Linked DNA regions of Homo sapiens: region 1 is linked to region 2. A link means that fine-mapping ties the variant in region 2 to the expression of a gene that starts in the linked region. Tissue or cell type: whole blood. Region 2 holds a variant in brackets; the other region holds the start of a gene. All regions are shown on one strand. Distances are from middle to middle.

Region 1 (8,079 bases), 79 kb before region 2:
CGTAGGGCTCTTGTGGGGAGAAGTCTTCGGCCATGACCCCCATGCTGACCCAGCCCTCGATAATCTCCACCTCCCAGTAGTAGGTGCCTCGGTCCAGGGCACCCTCGCCCAGCACCTGCTCACAATGGGTGAAGCGGGTGGGCGACAAGGGGTAGTTGATAGGACACAGCACCCTCTTGACACCTTTGGTTCCAAACAGCTGCAGGAACTTGTCTGCTGTGTCGCTGTCCAAATCCACAATATAGGCAACTGATCCCGTGGACAGAAGAGAGAGGCAGGGCTCAGGGCCAGGCTCAGAGGGCACGGCCCCTCCCCAAGTACCCACCCCCCCAAAACACAGCCTCTCCCCTGCTTTCCAACCGGCACAACCCAGCCCCGCCGGGGACCACCCCAGGAGCTGCCCTAGCTCTCCCCACAAACTGGGGAGAGGAATCCTAACCCTTGTGTGCCAGGGCCCTGCTGGGACCAGCCCAGCAGCCCTGGGAGGGCCCAGTGTGAGTGGAGGGGGCACGGGCGTCCACTTACACTTGAGGAAATAGTCCCTGGGAGCTTCACTCTCCAAGAGGTTCGTACTCTCGAGGTCTTGGGGCTCAGCATCAGCTGTAGAAGAGGAGACAGTGGTGAGAACGCCCCCAGACTGCCCCCCTCTGAACCTGTGACTACAATCCCTACCCCCTTCACTTCCTCCCAGAGTCCAGAGCCACCAGGGAGCAAGCACCACCCAGATGTGGCACGCTGTGCTCACACACATGCCCGTTGCCTGTGTTCTGCCTCTTGCCCCATGTGCTTCCCGGGCCACAGCCCTCTGGAGCTAGAGGGTGGGCTAGGAGAAGCCCCCTCTACCCCAGGTCCAAGGGGCTGATTGATCCCCACAGGGTGGCAGCTCTAGTCACTGGCAGGATTTGGGCTCCTCCCTGTGCCAGGCACAATTTTCCTCCTCCACTTCTGGATGGGCGCCAGGCCTGGGGGCCTGTGCGAGAGGCTGGCAGAGGGTGAGTCATCGGGGGGGCGTGGGGCGGTGCCCACCTTCCGAGTCCAGCTTCTGTGGCCCATCCTCGTTGCCACCCGGCCCCCTCAGCTGCTCCCACTGGTTGACGCAGGCCACGGCCAGCATGTCTCTCACTGCACGGACAGCTTGGGATGATTTGGTGAAGCTGAGCTCCCTCGGGGGTCCAGGCCCAGGGCCACACCCATCCTCCAGGGCCAGCCTTAGTGCCAGCAGCTCCTGTGCCAGACAAATGCCCATTAAAGTGCTGCTGGCCATGGCTCCTCCTTGCTGGGGGTGGAGGCAGCTCTGCCAGGAAGTCATGCACCCACTGCCTCCTCCTCCCTCCACCCCACCTGTCCCAGCTTCTGTTCCTTCCGTGGCCCCCAGAGCGGCCTTCACCTGCAGGAAGCTGACTGAGTCAGCTTCAGGGACCTGGCTGAGATTCTGGCGGGCTCGGCTCAGGCGGCTGCGCTGTTCCTCCTGTCGCCGCAGGTCACCCTGGGAGCGGCCTAGCATGGCAGCTTCCCCCTCCTCGATGAAGCCCAGCACCTGGGTCTGGAAGCCCTGCAGGGCGGCCGCAGCATCTGCAAACAGCCGGCTCACCCTCTCCCGCTCTGCTACGGCTGCACTCTGCACAGGACGACAGTAGAGGGGGCAATGAGGGCAAAGAACCGTCCCGGACTGTACCCCCCTCCTTCCCTGACCCCGGCTTCCCACCGGCCCTCTTGAGGGGACAGAGGGGCCAGACTGAGCCTGTCCTGGATCTGGGCCAGGTCAGGGGACACTTGTGCTCAGTAGGTATGGGCATGGTTTGTTTGGAGTGGATTGTTCCATGCTGAGGGAGGGGTGTTTGACCTTGATGAGGGCCACTGTGCGCCTGGACTGTGCAATGCCAGCACCCAGCTCGTCCATGCGGTCCTCCACGGCGCTCAGGACTTTGGACTGCTCAGCCTGTGGACAACACCCTCCATGAGTGTGAGGTCTGGCAGAGGCCACAGCCCTACACTCGGGTCCCAGGCCTTGCCAGGGGAGAGAAGGGGGTGACTGGGGAGTGGTATCTGTGCATCAGGTGGGACTGGAGTGGCCACGATGTCCCATAATATGCCAGAGGTGCCTGCAGCCCAGGCTGGTGCCTTTCCTGAACGCCTGGGGGGCGTGCAGGCTGACTGGGTGTCTGCCTCGGGTCTCTGACAGGAGGCCTAGTACAGGGCCGTCCGCTGGTCTCAGTGTTGCTCAGATGAATTTGAGAACTTCCTCCGGCGGGGAAGAGGCAGAGAGTAAGCCAGTTAGGTTGGGAGGTGGGCGGCGGAGGGGTGACTGCACAAGGAGGCATTAAGCTGTCCTGAGGATCACTGTTCCCAAAGAGCCTGCATCCACAGTCCAGGCCTGGAAAAAAGGGGATTCCGGGCAAATCCCCTAGGTCTTATGAGTCACTGCTCCAGGCAGGAGAAACGGAAAATCCCTTGGCCAGAGGCGCCAAGACCGGGCTGGAGGCCAAAGGAAACTGGGGGCGGGAGGTAGAGGCCGCGGCTCACATGCTCCCACCACTGGCCCCCGGAACAGCTGGACAGAGAATCTGTGTGCCCGGTCGCCCTCTGCCGCCCTCCTGCCGCCTGCCACACCCATCGAAAGCTGCTGCCTCAGCCCAGGGCAAATCTGAGCTGAGACCGGCGTGACCCTCCGGGCGGGAGCAGCAGCCACGCTACCGGAACCCCGCGGGCCTAACCCGGCTCCCTCCCGCCTACACCCCCATAGACCCCGGCCCGGCTTCAGGTCCCCTGCCCGCTCTTCGCGTCCTTGTCCTGTTCTCACGTCCCTCCTTCCTCCCTTCCCATCTCCATCACCGCCAGCAGATGACCTTGTCAAGGCTGGAAGGGACCGCAAAGATCCTCAGGTTAGAGGAGGAGATTAAGACCCAACCCGGGAAGACTGGGGGGTCCAAGGTCCTCGGCCCGCTCGCGCGCGGTCGGTCACCAGCCCCGGCTCACCCGAGTGTGCCCCCGGAGCCCACCTCCTGAAGCGCGCGCTCCTGCTCCAGCGGCACCAGCTCGTGGCCGCGGTGCTCCTGTGCGGCGCAGGCCTCGCACAGACACACGCGCTCCGCGCGGCAGTAGCGCTCGAGCGGCCGTAGGTGGCGCGGGCACAGGCTCTCCTCTAGCCGGCGCAGCGGCGGCACCAGGCGGTGTCCGCGGAGGGCGGGGCTGCGCTCGTGCGGGCCCAGGTGCGCGGGGCAAAAGGAGGCGAGGCAGGAGAGGCAGGACAGCGCGGCGGGCAGGGCCGCGCCCTCGGGGCACGCGTCGCAGCGCACTGGCTCTTCGCCCGCGGGCCACGGCTCGGGAGCGCAGGGGGCCGACGGCTCCGGGACACTGGGCAGCGCGCTGGGTGCCGAGGGCTCCGGGGCCAGGGCAGGGGCCGGGCCGGGGCCGGACCCGGGGCCCGAGCCCTGGCGGAGCTGCAGCAGCTCGGACAGCGTGTGGTTCTTGCGGAGCTGAAGGCCGTCGGGGAAGGGCTCCTGGCACAGCGGGCAGCGGGCCGCGCCTCCGGGTCCGCCGGCTCCACTCGCGCCACGATGCGGCCAGAGCGCGCCCAGGCAGGCGAGACAGAAGTTGTGGCCGCAGGGCAGCGTCACCGGCTCCCGGAGTGGCTCTAGGCAGATGGGGCAGCTGAAGGGTCCACTGCCGTCCATGACTCCGCGGCCGCCCAGGGCGCCGCCGATTGTGCTCCGGCCTGGGAGGGACCCGGGCCGTTCGCGCCGCGGCACCTCCCCCTGGGACCTAGGCCAGGGCTCCGGCCCCCGCCCGCCCCCAGCTCGGCCCGCCCCGCAGCACCGCCCGCCTGCGGGCCCGCGGACTCCCAGTCCCCGCCCAGACAACGCAGGGAGGCCTCCGAGCCCGCGCGACCCCCAGGGGAGTCCGCGTGGTCCTAAGGAAGGGCGCTGCTGAAAGGGTGTGAAACTGAGTGAGCGCGGGCGGAGAACGCGAGAGGTACAGTGGAAGGAATGGGAAGGACTCAGCCTCCATCCCTCTGGTCCTTCTGGGCCAGGCCAGCGCTCCGCAGGGGCTGGGCGCGTCTAGCTGTGTCATGCCTGCACCTTTGCGCTCGACCCCTCCCTGGCACCCTTAGCAAAGTTCCTGAGCTGCTGACTGCAGAGAAAAATAACTGCTGATGTACATATGTTTTTGCCCCTTAGCGACTCTTTTTTTTTTTTTTTTTGAGACAGAGTTCCTCTCTTGTCGCCCAGGCTGGAGTGCAGGGGCGCTATCTCGGCTCACTGCAACCTCCGCCTCCCGGATTCAAGTGATTCTCCTGCCTTAGCCTCCCAAGTAGCTGGAATTATAGGCGCTTGCCACCACACCAGGCAAATTTTTGTATTTTTTTGTAGAGACGGAGTTTCACCTTGTCCAGGCTGGTCTTGAACTCGTGACCTCAGGTGATCCACCTGCCTCGGCCTCCCAAAGTGCTGGGATTACAGGCGTGAGCCACAGCGCCCAGCTCCTTTAGCGACTCTTTACCCCAAGTAGGGAACTTGGACTTTTCTAGACCTGAAATGGGAAGTTGACGTCATTCCCTAAGTCCCTTGTCTGAGGAATGTAGTTCTGGCCCCTGGACACTGGGGACACCTGTGGTGGGGTTGGGGGTTCCCCAACTGGAAGTATTTAAAGCTCATCTAATTATGCACTTAAAGTGGTGCGTTTTATTGTATGAGTTATATCTCAATAATGTTAAGTTAAAACACTACACCAGAATGACAACAAAATAAGTAAAGTAGCACTGATTATAACCCAAAGTGTAAAATAAACATCTATGAGTCCATGCCGATATAAATAAATAATAAATTAACAAGCTGGGGAGAACAGACATATTTCGCATTGAAAATTCCAAATAATGTTTTTTTATTTTTATTTTTTTAGATGGAGTTTCGCTCTTGTCGCCCAGGCTGGAGTGCAGTGGCGCAATCTCAGCTCACTGCAACCTCTGTCTCCTGGGTTCAAGCGATTCTCCCTCCTCGGACTCTTGAGTAGCTGGGATTACAGGCGCCCGCCACCACATTTGGCTAATTTTTGTATTTTTAGTAGAGACGGGGTTTCACCATGTTGGCCAAGCTGGTCTCGAACTGCTGACTTCAGGTGATCCACCCGCCTCGGCCTCCCAAAGTGCTGGGATTACAGACATGAGCCACCGCACCCAGAGATATCTGTAATTTTGGTTAGTGACAAAGTCACAGGTAACTGCTCATACCACTCTGGTGTATTCTCTCCATTTGGAATAGAAAGAAATGCTGTGTTTCAGTAAGGTGCTGCAGCGTGGCTTCCTTCTGCAGGATCTGAGGGAGACTCTGTCCTGGGCGTCTGTCCCAGCTTCTGGTACTGGCTGGCAATTCTTGGCGTTCCTTGGCTTGTAGCTGTAAGATGCGCTCTAATATCAGTCTCTGTTGTCATTTGCCTTTTCTCTGTGTCTGTGTTCAAATGTCCTTTTTTTTTTTTTTTTTAGGGAGTCTTGCTCTGTTGCCCACTCAAACTGCTGGGCTCGAGTAATCTGCCTGCCTCAGCCTCCCAAAGTGCTAGGATTACAGGCGTGAGCCACTGTGCCCGGTGCCCATTTCCTCTTATCAGGACACCAGTTGTTGGATTAGGGCACGCTCTACTCCAGTATGCCCTCATCTTAACTCAGTCACATCTGAAAATACTCTATTTCCAAATAAGGTCACAGCCACAGGTCCTGGGGGTTAGGATCCGAATACGTCTTTTTCAGGGAACAGGATTCAACCTATAACAGTGCATAAGTAAGGAAATGTTGGAGAGAGGCCCAGGCCCAAATGTGCTAGAGGTCATGCATGTCCCCCGGTGTTCCTGGCCCTCTCTGTGTTCCAGGACCCTGGCCCTTCCCTAAACCTCAGCACACACTGCTGCTTGTCCCACACCCAAACCCTTGTCCACCTCTCCCACCGGGTCTGCATTCCTGCCTCTGTTTCCCCAGCTCTCTAGGCTTGGGGGGTGGGAAAATACCCTCAGGTCCCCTGAGACCAGACTAGAAATGTTCAGAAGGCACTTCATGAGTTCAGAGCTAAAGAGGAGAAAACACAAGCAAAAGAGCACAAATGTGCCGGGTGTGGTGGCTCACGCCTGGAATCCCAGGACTTTGGGAGGCTGAGGCGGGCGGATCACTTGAGGTCACGAGTTCCAGACCAGCCTGGTTAACATGGCGAAACCCCATCTCTACTAAAAATACAAAAAAATTAGCCGGGCGTGGTGGTGCACACACTTGTATTCCCAGCTACTCGGGAGTCTGAGGCAGGAGAATCGCTTGAACCAAGGAGGCAGAGGTTGTGCCACTGTACTCTCCAGCCTCGGTGACACAGCGAGACTCCATCTCAAAAAAAAAAAAAAAAAAAAAAGAAAAGAAAAGAAGAAAGAAAGAAGGAGGGACCCAGCCTCTTGGGGAGGGAGCTGGCTCTCCAGGCACTCAGGAACCCCTGTCTTAGTGTGTCTGGGCTGCTATCCCAGAACACCAGAGACTGGGTGGCTTATACACAACAGACACTCCTCACAGTTCTGGAGGCTGGAAGTCTGCGATCACGGTGACAGCACAGTCAGGGTTCCAGTGAGAGCTGCTTCCTGGGTTGTAGATGGCTGCCTTCCCACTGTGTCCTCACATGGCCAAGAGACAGCCAGAGAGCCTTTGGGGCCCCTTGGACAAGGGCACTCATGCCATGAATGAGGCTCCGCCCACCTGAAGACCCCACCTCCTAGGACCATCACCTTAGGGGTCAGGATCTCAACACATCAATTCTGAGGGTACACACACATTCAGACTGTTGCAACTCCAAGTGCCAAAAGAGCGGTGCAATCTGCTCCTGGGGGCTCCATGGGAAAGGCTGGGGAACTGTGGAAGTGGCATTTGAGCTGGGCTTTCACAGACTGCCAGGACTCAGGCGGGCAGAGACTGGGGTGGGAAAAGACCTTCCGGGCAGAGGGAGTAGCAGAGGGAGCCGGCCTGGGTGTGTCTGATTTGGCAGGAGGGTGGGTAATGAGTTCCATACATTGGTTTCCACCAAGAGCACTAGAGCACTTGATCAGGACTATCACTTGTTTGCCAAGCCCCAGGAGCGGTTGGGAGGCCCAGGCATCAGTGCCACCCTGCTCCGTGGCTTTGGTGCCCAGGCTGCCTGGGTTTGGTGAGGCCACAAACCTGCCTGGTTCTGGAAGGAGGGGGTGCCTTTCCGGTTGGGTCCCAGCCAACCCTCTGCTCCCCACCCACAGCCTGCTGTCCTCCCTGCTTGAAAAGATCTGCTCCCCAGGAGGAAAGCACAGAGATGCGGTTTGTCAGTGTGGTGGCATCTTGCTACTTCTTTTCTTTTTTTTTCAAATGGAGTCTCGCTCTGTCGCCCAGGCTGGAGTTCAGTGGCGCAATCTCATCTCACTGCAACCTCCACCTTCTGGGTTCAAGCGATTCTCCTGCTTCAGCCTCCCCAGTAGCTGGGATTACAGGCATGCATCACCACGCTCGGCTAAATTTTGTATTTTTTAGTGGCGATGGGGTTTCACCATGTTGGCCAGGCTGGTCTCAAACCCCTGACCTCAGGTGATCTGCCTGCCTCGGCCTCCCAAAGTGCTGGGATTACAGACGTGAGCCACCGCGCCCAGCCTGGCATCTTGCTATTTCATTTCCATTTCCAGAGTTTTGAAGTTGTTTGCCTAGTGTATTAGTTCACTTCAAAATGAATTGTCTAAGAGTCAAGGGCAAGGGTAACTGGCACCATGTGAGCTCAGCATGTTCACACCTGCCCTCATTCTGTCTGTCCAAGGACCCTATCCTAAAGGATGGCAACTGGAATTCCGATAGGTACCATGTCTTGCCAGAGGTCACATAACTTGTCCTGCAGAGGAAGCAGAATTTAAGCTCAAGAGGTTGCAGCTTGAATAATTATAAATCTCACATATGACTGTCTGGCTGTAGTAGTAGTGCTTGAGAAAAAAAGGAAAAAAATCAAACAAAAACAAGTGGCTGGGTGTGGTGGTTCACGCCTATAATCCTGGGACTTTGGGAGCCAAGGCACGAGGACTTGAGCTCAGGAGTTTGAGACCAGCCTG
Region 2 (8,086 bases):
GCCACTGCACTCCAGCCTGGGTGACAGAGCAAGACTCTGTCTCAAAAAAAAAAAAAAACCAAAAAATGCTGGGTGCGGTGGCTCATGCCTGTAATCCTAGCACTTTGGGAGGCCGAGGCAAGAGGGTCCCCTGAGGTCAGGAGTTTGAGACCAGCCTGGCCAACAGGGTGAAACCCCACCTCTACTAAAAATACAAAACAATTAGCTGGGTGTGGTGGCGCATGCCTGTAATCCCAGCTACTTGGGAGGCTGAGGCAGGAGAATCGCTTGAACCCAGGAGGCGGAGGTTGCAGTGAGCCAAGATCACGCCACTGCACTCCAGCATGGGTGACAGAGACTCTCTCTCTCAAAAAAAAAAAAAAGGGGCATCAGAAGGAAAAATGCATTATTAGCTCCTTTTTTTTTTTTTTTTTTTTTGAGACAGAGTCTCGCTGTATTGCCTAGGCTGGAGTGCAGTGGTGTGATCTCGACTTACTGCAACCTCTGCCTCCTGGGTTCAAGCGATTCTCCTGCCTCAGCCTCCTGAGTAGCTGAGATTACAGGCGTGTGCCATCACACCCGGCTAATCTTTGTATTTTTAGTAGAGACAGGTTTTCACCATATTGGTCAGGCTGGTCTTGAATTCCTGACCTTATGATCCATCCTCCTTGGCCTCCCAAAGTGCTGGGACTACAGGCATGAGCCACCGCGCCCAGCCTTATTCCCTCCTTTTATGAGACGGAGTCTCACTCTGTTGCCAAGCTGGAGTGCAGTGTCATGATCTCTGCTCACTGCAACCTCCGCCTCCCGGGTTCAAGCTATTCTCCTGCCTCAGCCTCCTGAGTAGCTGGGACTACAGGTGCGCACCACCACGCCCAGCTAATTTTTTGGTATTTTTAGTAGAGATGGGGTTTCACCATGTTGGCCAGGATGGTCTCCATCTCTTGACCTCATGATCTTCCCGCCTCAGCCTCCCAAAAGTGCTGGAATTACAGGTGTGAGCCACTGCGCCCAGCCTCCTTTTTTTTTTTGAGACAAGGTCTCACTGTCATCTAGGCTGGAGTACGGTGGCATAATCACAGCTCACTGTAGCCTCGGCCTCCCAGGCTCAAGTGATCCTCCCACCCCAGTCTCCCAAGTAGCTGGGACTACACACGTGTGCCACCATACCCAGCTAGATTTTTTTACTTTTTGTAGAGATGGGTTCTCACTATGTTGCCCAGACTGATCTTGAGCTCCTGGGCTCAAGTCATCCACGCACTCAGCCTCCCAAAGTGCTGGGATAACAGGAATATGCCAGTGTGCCCTGCTGTTATTACCTTCTAAAAGAACAGACCATTCTAACCCTATTGTGAGTAACAGCCACTCAACTCCACTGTTTGATGCCTCTGCTTTATTTTCTATCAAAACATACCTGGGCATACTTCATCAGCATGTTTTCTCTGGGAATACGATGGTTGTCCATTTTGAGGTAGCCATTGTCTATCTCATCATAACCAAATTTGGGGCCGATGTCACCAACGGTAATTCCTACCACAGATGAAAGGACAGTCACGAGATGTTTATGCTCTGGAATTTCTGGCTTTTGCTCCGCCTCTTCAGTTGGGCATTCTACCTTTTGCAGAAGAAAGTGCTCAGTTTCATTTTCATCTCAACATCAGATGAACAGTTCTTACCTGGCAAAGGCTTATGGGTCCCGATTTCACGAATAGGTACGATAAAGGCATGTAATCCATAGCATTTCCCCTTAGTGATGAGCTGGGCAAGAACTATTGCATGATTTGAAGTCTTTCCAACTGTAATATCAAAGAGAACAAGGGAGGGGTGGGCAAACGTTCATACATTTTTAAAGGGTAGAAAAAAGAAGAAAGAATATGTTAAATCTAACACTAGACTAAACCAATAGTATGTGTCCAGAAAGCCTTTCTGCTGACAGCATCACACCTAGCTTTCAGAAAGAAATTCCCTTAAGCTAATAGTTATTACTTTCTTTTCTACTTATTTCTCATACATTTACGTAGAGAAAATTTTAGGATAAAAATAAGAATATTAATTTAAACTACTTCCTTGTTATCCCTTAAGGCAGTGCTGTCCAAAACAGTAATCACTAGCTACATGTGGCTTCTTACATATAAATTATAAATAAATAAAATATATAATGTGAATAACAAAATCCTTCAACCACTAACTGTATTGGAAATATATATTCCAAGATAATAACTCAGAATGGAATAAGAAGATATAAAAGTTTCGGGTCAGCCGGGCACGGTGGCTCGCGCCTGTAATTCCAGCACTTTGGGAGGCCGAGGCGGGCAGACCAGAGGTCAGGAGTTTGAGACCAGCCTGGCCAACATGATGAAATCCCATCTCTACTAAAAATACAAAAATTAGTTGGGTGTGGTGGCACGCTCCTGTAGTCCCAGCTACTCAGGAGGCTGAGGCAGGAGAATCGCTTGAACCCAGAAGGTGGAGGTTGCAGTGAGCGGAGATCACACCACTGTACTCCAACCTGGGTGACACAGTGAGACTCCATCTCAAAAAAAAAAAAAAGTTTGTGTTAAAACTATTTAAATTTTTTTCTTTTTTTTTTTTAAGAGACAGGGTTTCACTCTGTCACCCAGGCTGGAGTGCAGTGGCATGATCACAGATAGTAGCTCACTGCAGGCTTGAACTCTTGGGCTCAAGTGGTCCTCCCACCTCAGCCTCCTGAGTAGCCAGGACTATAGGTCTATAGGTATGTGCCGCTATGCCTGGCTTTCCTCTCTCTCTCTCTCTCTCTCTCTCTCTCTCTCTCTCTCTCTCTCTCTCTCTCTCTCTCTCTATATATATATATATATATATATATATATATATATATACACACACACACCTCTCTCTGTCTATATACACACACACACACCCCTCTATGTACACACACCACACACACATATATTTGTTTGTTGGGTTGTTTTTGAGACAAAGTCTTGCTGTGATGCCCAGGCTGGAGTGCAATGGTGCAATCTTGGCTCATTGCAACCTTCCCGGGTTCAAGTGATTCTCCTGCCTCAGCCTCCCAAGTAGCTGGGACTACAGGTGTGCGCCACCACACCCGGCTAATTTTTGTATTTTTAGTAGAGATGGGGTTTCAGCATATTAACCAGGCTGGTCTTGAATTCCTGACCTCAAGTGATCTGCCCACCTCAGCCTCCCAAAGTGTTAGGATTTCACCACCAAGTCTGGCCGACATTATCATAAAAGCTCTACATTCTAAGCAAAATCTCATGACAAACCTTCAAAACATCCAATAAATGCTGAAAAATTCACTTACGCCCACCAGGCCACCATTTAATGGAGGTCACAGTAGGACTGTTGAGAATGAACTCCTGGGTTTCAGGGTCATACGTGGCTGTGGTTTCCAAGCCTCGAAGGTGAGTTCCTAAGGAGATAAATTACATTGACTTCAGTTAAGAGATGGGGAAAAAAATAGGCACAAGGAAAAATTTCCTGCACAGTCCTTTAAACTCTCATATCTCAGAGAAAAACAAAATCTAACAAAAAACACCTGTAGATGAGCTACAACTGGTTGATAACCAAGACACTGAATTTCCCACACTATCTGATGGTTTCCTATTAAGTTGAAAATCTAAGTGTCATGCATGTTCCATTTCTGTATTTGATTTGTTACATTTATTTACAGCAACTGAAAGAAAATATAAAGGCAACTTAGAATCACATTTTTAAGATCACAATATATGAATTTAACAGGGATGTTAACTGTCTTTTTAAACCCATCTCTGAGTTGCAAGTATGCCAATTTCAAGTCATATGTATTGTGTTAACCACACCAATTCAACATTCTTGAATTCTGTACTAATGAGAAGAATGAGATAACATGTGAGAGGAAGACATTTCAGCCAAAATTCGTATAAATTAAAAATGTATGGCTGTGCGTGGTGGCTCATGCCTGTAATCCCAGCACTTTAGGAGGCCGAGGCGGGTGGATCACGAGGTCAGGAGATCGAGTCCATCCTGGCTAACATGGTGAAACCCGTCTCTACTAAAAATACAAAAAATTAGCCAGGCATTGTGGCATGCGCCTGTAGTCCCAGCTACTAAGGAGGCTGAGGCAGGAGAATTGCTTGAACCCGGGAGGTGGAGGTTGCAGTGAGCCAAGATTGTGCCACCGCACTCCAGCCTGGGTGGCAGAGCAAGACTCCATCTCAAAAAAAAAAAAAAAAGAAAAAGAAAAAGAAAAAGGCCAGGCACAGTGGCTCAAGCCTGTAATCCCAGCACTTTGGGAGGCCGAGGTGGGGGGATCACGAGGTCAGGAGATTGAGACCATCCTGGCTAAAGTGGTGAAACCCCGTCTCTACTAAAAAAACAACAAAAAAATTAAAGCTGGGCACGGTGGCTCACGCCTGTAATCCCAGCACTTTGGGGGGCCAAGGCGGGCGGATCACAAAGTCAGGAGATCGAGACCATCCTGGTTAACACGGCGAAACCCCGTCTCTACTAAAAATACAAAAAATTAGCTGGGCATGGTGGTGGG[T/C]GCCTGTAGTCCCAGCTACTCGGGAGGCTGAGGCAGGAGAATGGCGTGAACCCGGAAGGTGGAGCTTGCAGTGAGCTGAGATCGCGCCACTGCACTCCAGCCTGGGCGACAGAGCACGACTCCGTCTCAAAAAAAAAAAAAAAAAAAGTATAAAAGTATAACTGTTATTGGGGAAATGACCTGAAATGTGACTTTTAAAAATTCCTAAAGGTCCAATAATAAGGTCTCAGTTGACCCTAGAGATTTCCAATGGCAGGCCTAACTTAGTCCTGCTGGTTCATTAATGTGGCAAGGAAGAGTTTCCAGTTTCTTATGTGTACTGGGATAGACAGGATCTTATGTTTTAAATCTTAACACAAATATATCAAAATTATTTGAAAAGAGTCATAGAAAAATGTTCTAGGTGGCAGTCTCTACAAAAATACTGTACTAAAGCAAACGTTGGGAACCTTTTACCAATCTGCTTTCATAACGCTTAGACCTCATTAAACACACTTTGAAACATTTAGAAGCTTCCAAGTTGAATAACCAACTTATGTGCAATCCACAACTTTCCCGAGTGGGAGTCAACAAATCAGACACAGACATCTTTCATCAAAGAAGCAGCTTTTACAGAAAAGCAGATAACATTAAACAGAACAGATAAGGACAAAATGTTTTCAAAAGCACAACTGAAACAAATAGTATTCCACTTGGAGTCTCATGAAAATCCTGTAAAATACTATTCAACACCAAATAAAAAGCAGCAGCTGTATAGAAATAAGGAGCAAGTGGCAAATACACACTAGACCAGTTTTTCTGAAACGTCAGAGCAGAAAAAGAGAAGCCATAAGCAAATGAATGGCAAACACGGACCCAATTCAGAGAAGATACAAAGAGGAACAGCGGCCACCTCCAGCCCACCCAGGTGCATGAAGAAAGCAGGTGGGGGGTGGAAAGATCAATGAAAGGTGGAGATACAGAGTCTGAAACCAAATGCCTGCAAGTTCGGCTTATCTTGGTTTTTTCACTCTCCAGCCAAGTCACTTGCAGAACTACTGATTGACTCAAAGTACAAATAACTCCAAAATGTCACACACGTCAGTTATAAGCTACTCATTTCCCTCAAGCAAATCCAAGAGTACACAAACTATTATTTGTATTTCTTCTGGAATTTGTACTCATTAAGGTATCAGTAGTAAAGGTAATCAGATAGTAATGAAGAAAAAAACAGCTTCGGGTTGTATATGCACACAGATTCTATACAACCTCAGTAACATTGAAAAACCACTTGGTAAATAAGGCCTGATTTGCAATTCTTGACCCTCTGAAGGGGAACTATGGTATAAAAAGGACAATCATTTTATCAGTATCATGGTCTTTAATTCCCACTCACCAAAGCAGTGTTTATACCAAAACCTGGACTCTGCAGAAAGAGCTCATTTAAACAGACCATAGAACATCGACACACCATCGATGGCACATGGTGGGCACTCCACACATGGTAAGCTCACAGGGGCCCGCCCAACCCAGAAGGTAGACTGAATACTCCATACCATGACCCATCTCTGTCTGGGCATAAGTGCCAATGATCTCCAAGTTCCAGGCGGGCATGAAGAAGCGCTCCTGCTGCTCCGCAGTTGCCTGGTGAAGCAAGGTGGGCAGGAACATGCCCAAGTGAAGATCCAGAGGCTCAGGCCGCCCTCGGTGCACAAAACTTCGAGGAAATATCAAGGATGGGCATTTGAGAGAAGAGTCATCAGGTGTGAGAGAATCAGCAATTTAAATAGAGCAAGGGAAGGAGACAAAAAAACCTTAAGTATGAATTAGTTGCGTGCACTTAATCATAGATGGGAGCACTGTCCCTTTCTGTATTACTTTATAGCTCTTGTTAATTTCCATTTTTCCTGAGTCGGCAAGGAGTACGAGGACAGGGATTGGTTACTGATTCCAAAGCCAATGCAGCACAAAACCACACGTGCAAGGCAGAGGATCCTCGCCCAGGAATTAAATCAAAGGAAATAAAGAAAATTTGAGAGGCCAGTGCAGTGGATCATGCCTACAATCTCAGCACTTTGGGAGGCCAAGGCGGTCAGATCACCTTAAGTCAGGAGTTCGAGACCAGCCTGGCCAACATGGCAAAGCCCTGACTCTACTAAAAATACAAAAATCAGCTGAACGTGGTGGCGCCAGCCAGTAGTCCCAGCTATTTGGGAGCCTGAGGCAGGAAAATCGCTTGAACCTAGGAGGCGGAGGTTGCAGTGAGCCGAGATCATGCCCACTGCATTCCAGCCTGGGTGACAGAGTGAGACTCTGTCTCAAAAAAAATAAATAAATAAATAAGAGAGAATTGGCCAGGTGCAGTGGCTCCCACCTATAATCTCAGCACTCTGAGAGGCCGAGGTGGGTGGATCACCTGAGGTCAGGAGTTCAAGACCAGCCTGGCCAACATGGCGAAACCCTGTCTCTACTAAAAATACAAAAATTAAGCAGGCATGGTGGTGCACACCTGTAATCCCAGCTACTCAGGAGGCTGAGGCAGGAGAATTGCTCCAACCCAGGAGGCAGAGGTTGCAGTGAGCTAAGATAACACCACTGCATTCTAGCCTGGGCGACACAGTGAGACTCCATCTCAAAAAAAAAAAAAAAAAGAGAGAGAGAATTTGAAAAGTTGTATAGGGCCAGGCATGGTGGCTCATGCCTGTAATCCTAGCACTTTGGGAGGCTGACGCAGGCGGATCACTTGAGGTCAGGAGTTTGAGACCAGCCTGGCCAACATAGTGAAATCCCGTTTCTACTAAAAATACAAAAAAAAAAAAAAAAAAAAAAGGCCGGGCACCGTGGCTCATGCCTGTAATCCCAGCACTTTGAGAGGCCAAGGTGGGCGGATCACCTGAGGTCAGGAGTTCAAGACCAGCCTGACCAACATGGTGAGACCCCATCTCTACTAAATATACAAAATCAGCCAGGTGTGGTGGCACATGCCTGTAATCCAAGCTACTTGGGAGACTGAGGCAGGAGAACCTGGGAGGCGGTGGTTGCAGTGAGCCGAGATCACACCACTGCACTCCAGCCTGGGCAACAGAGCGAGACTCTGTCTCAAAAAAAAAAAAAAAAAAAAAAAGTTGTATAGAATGGAGAATTTGCTGGGTGTGGTGGCATGTGCCTGTAATCCCAGCTACTTGGGATGCTGAGGCAGAATCGCTTGAAGCCAGGAGTCGGAGAACAGAGAATTTGAGTGGTACTGGTACAAGGATTTCCTCTGATGAGAAAGCGAGACAGAACATAGTAGTTCTCTCAGAGTGACAGTATGACCCCCAGATTATAGTTTTTCCTCGATGCAATTTCAATAATGCTTCTAGGCTGGGATTTTTTTTCTGTTTTGTCCACAAAACATCCAGCGTAGAACCATATTCCTCACATAGCTCTGATCATTTCATTCAGATTCATCATGTCAAATATTCGGCCACGCTCTACTGAAACACTTTAATACAAAAACTGACAGTGCTCTTCATCCCAATAATTTATTTCAGAAATTAAAAAAGACATGCAATTTCTAGTGAAGACCATAATAACGACAAGTTACAGATTCATGCATAA

The links. PIP is the estimated chance that this variant, and not a neighbour inherited with it, causes the effect.
Region 1: it holds the start of TRIM47, and the variant in region 2 is fine-mapped to the expression of TRIM47 in whole blood (INTERVAL, PIP 0.96).

What each region holds. Positions count from the first base shown.
Region 1 is chr17:75,874,875-75,882,953 of GRCh38, forward strand. TRIM47 (tripartite motif containing 47) reads right to left here and starts at 3,707. Exons shown (of 6, transcript NM_033452.3): 1 at 3,000-3,707; 2 at 1,844-1,939; 3 at 1,388-1,618; 4 at 1,027-1,225; 5 at 526-600; 6 at 1-249. The coding sequence starts at 3,674. It also overlaps a transcript of TRIM65 not described here. RefSeq lists enhancers at 1,250-2,165, 1,286-1,355, 2,166-3,081, 3,082-3,997 and silencers at 2,842-3,021, 3,032-3,411, 3,542-3,891.
Region 2 is chr17:75,954,173-75,962,258 of GRCh38, forward strand. ACOX1 (acyl-CoA oxidase 1) reads right to left here. Exons shown (of 14, transcript NM_004035.7): 3 at 6,043-6,203; 4 at 3,287-3,394; 5 at 1,656-1,775; 6 at 1,394-1,509. Among named protein-coding and RNA genes, the nearest start is that of FBF1, 17 kb to the left of the region's middle. The variant T/C (reference allele first, on the strand shown) is at 4,508.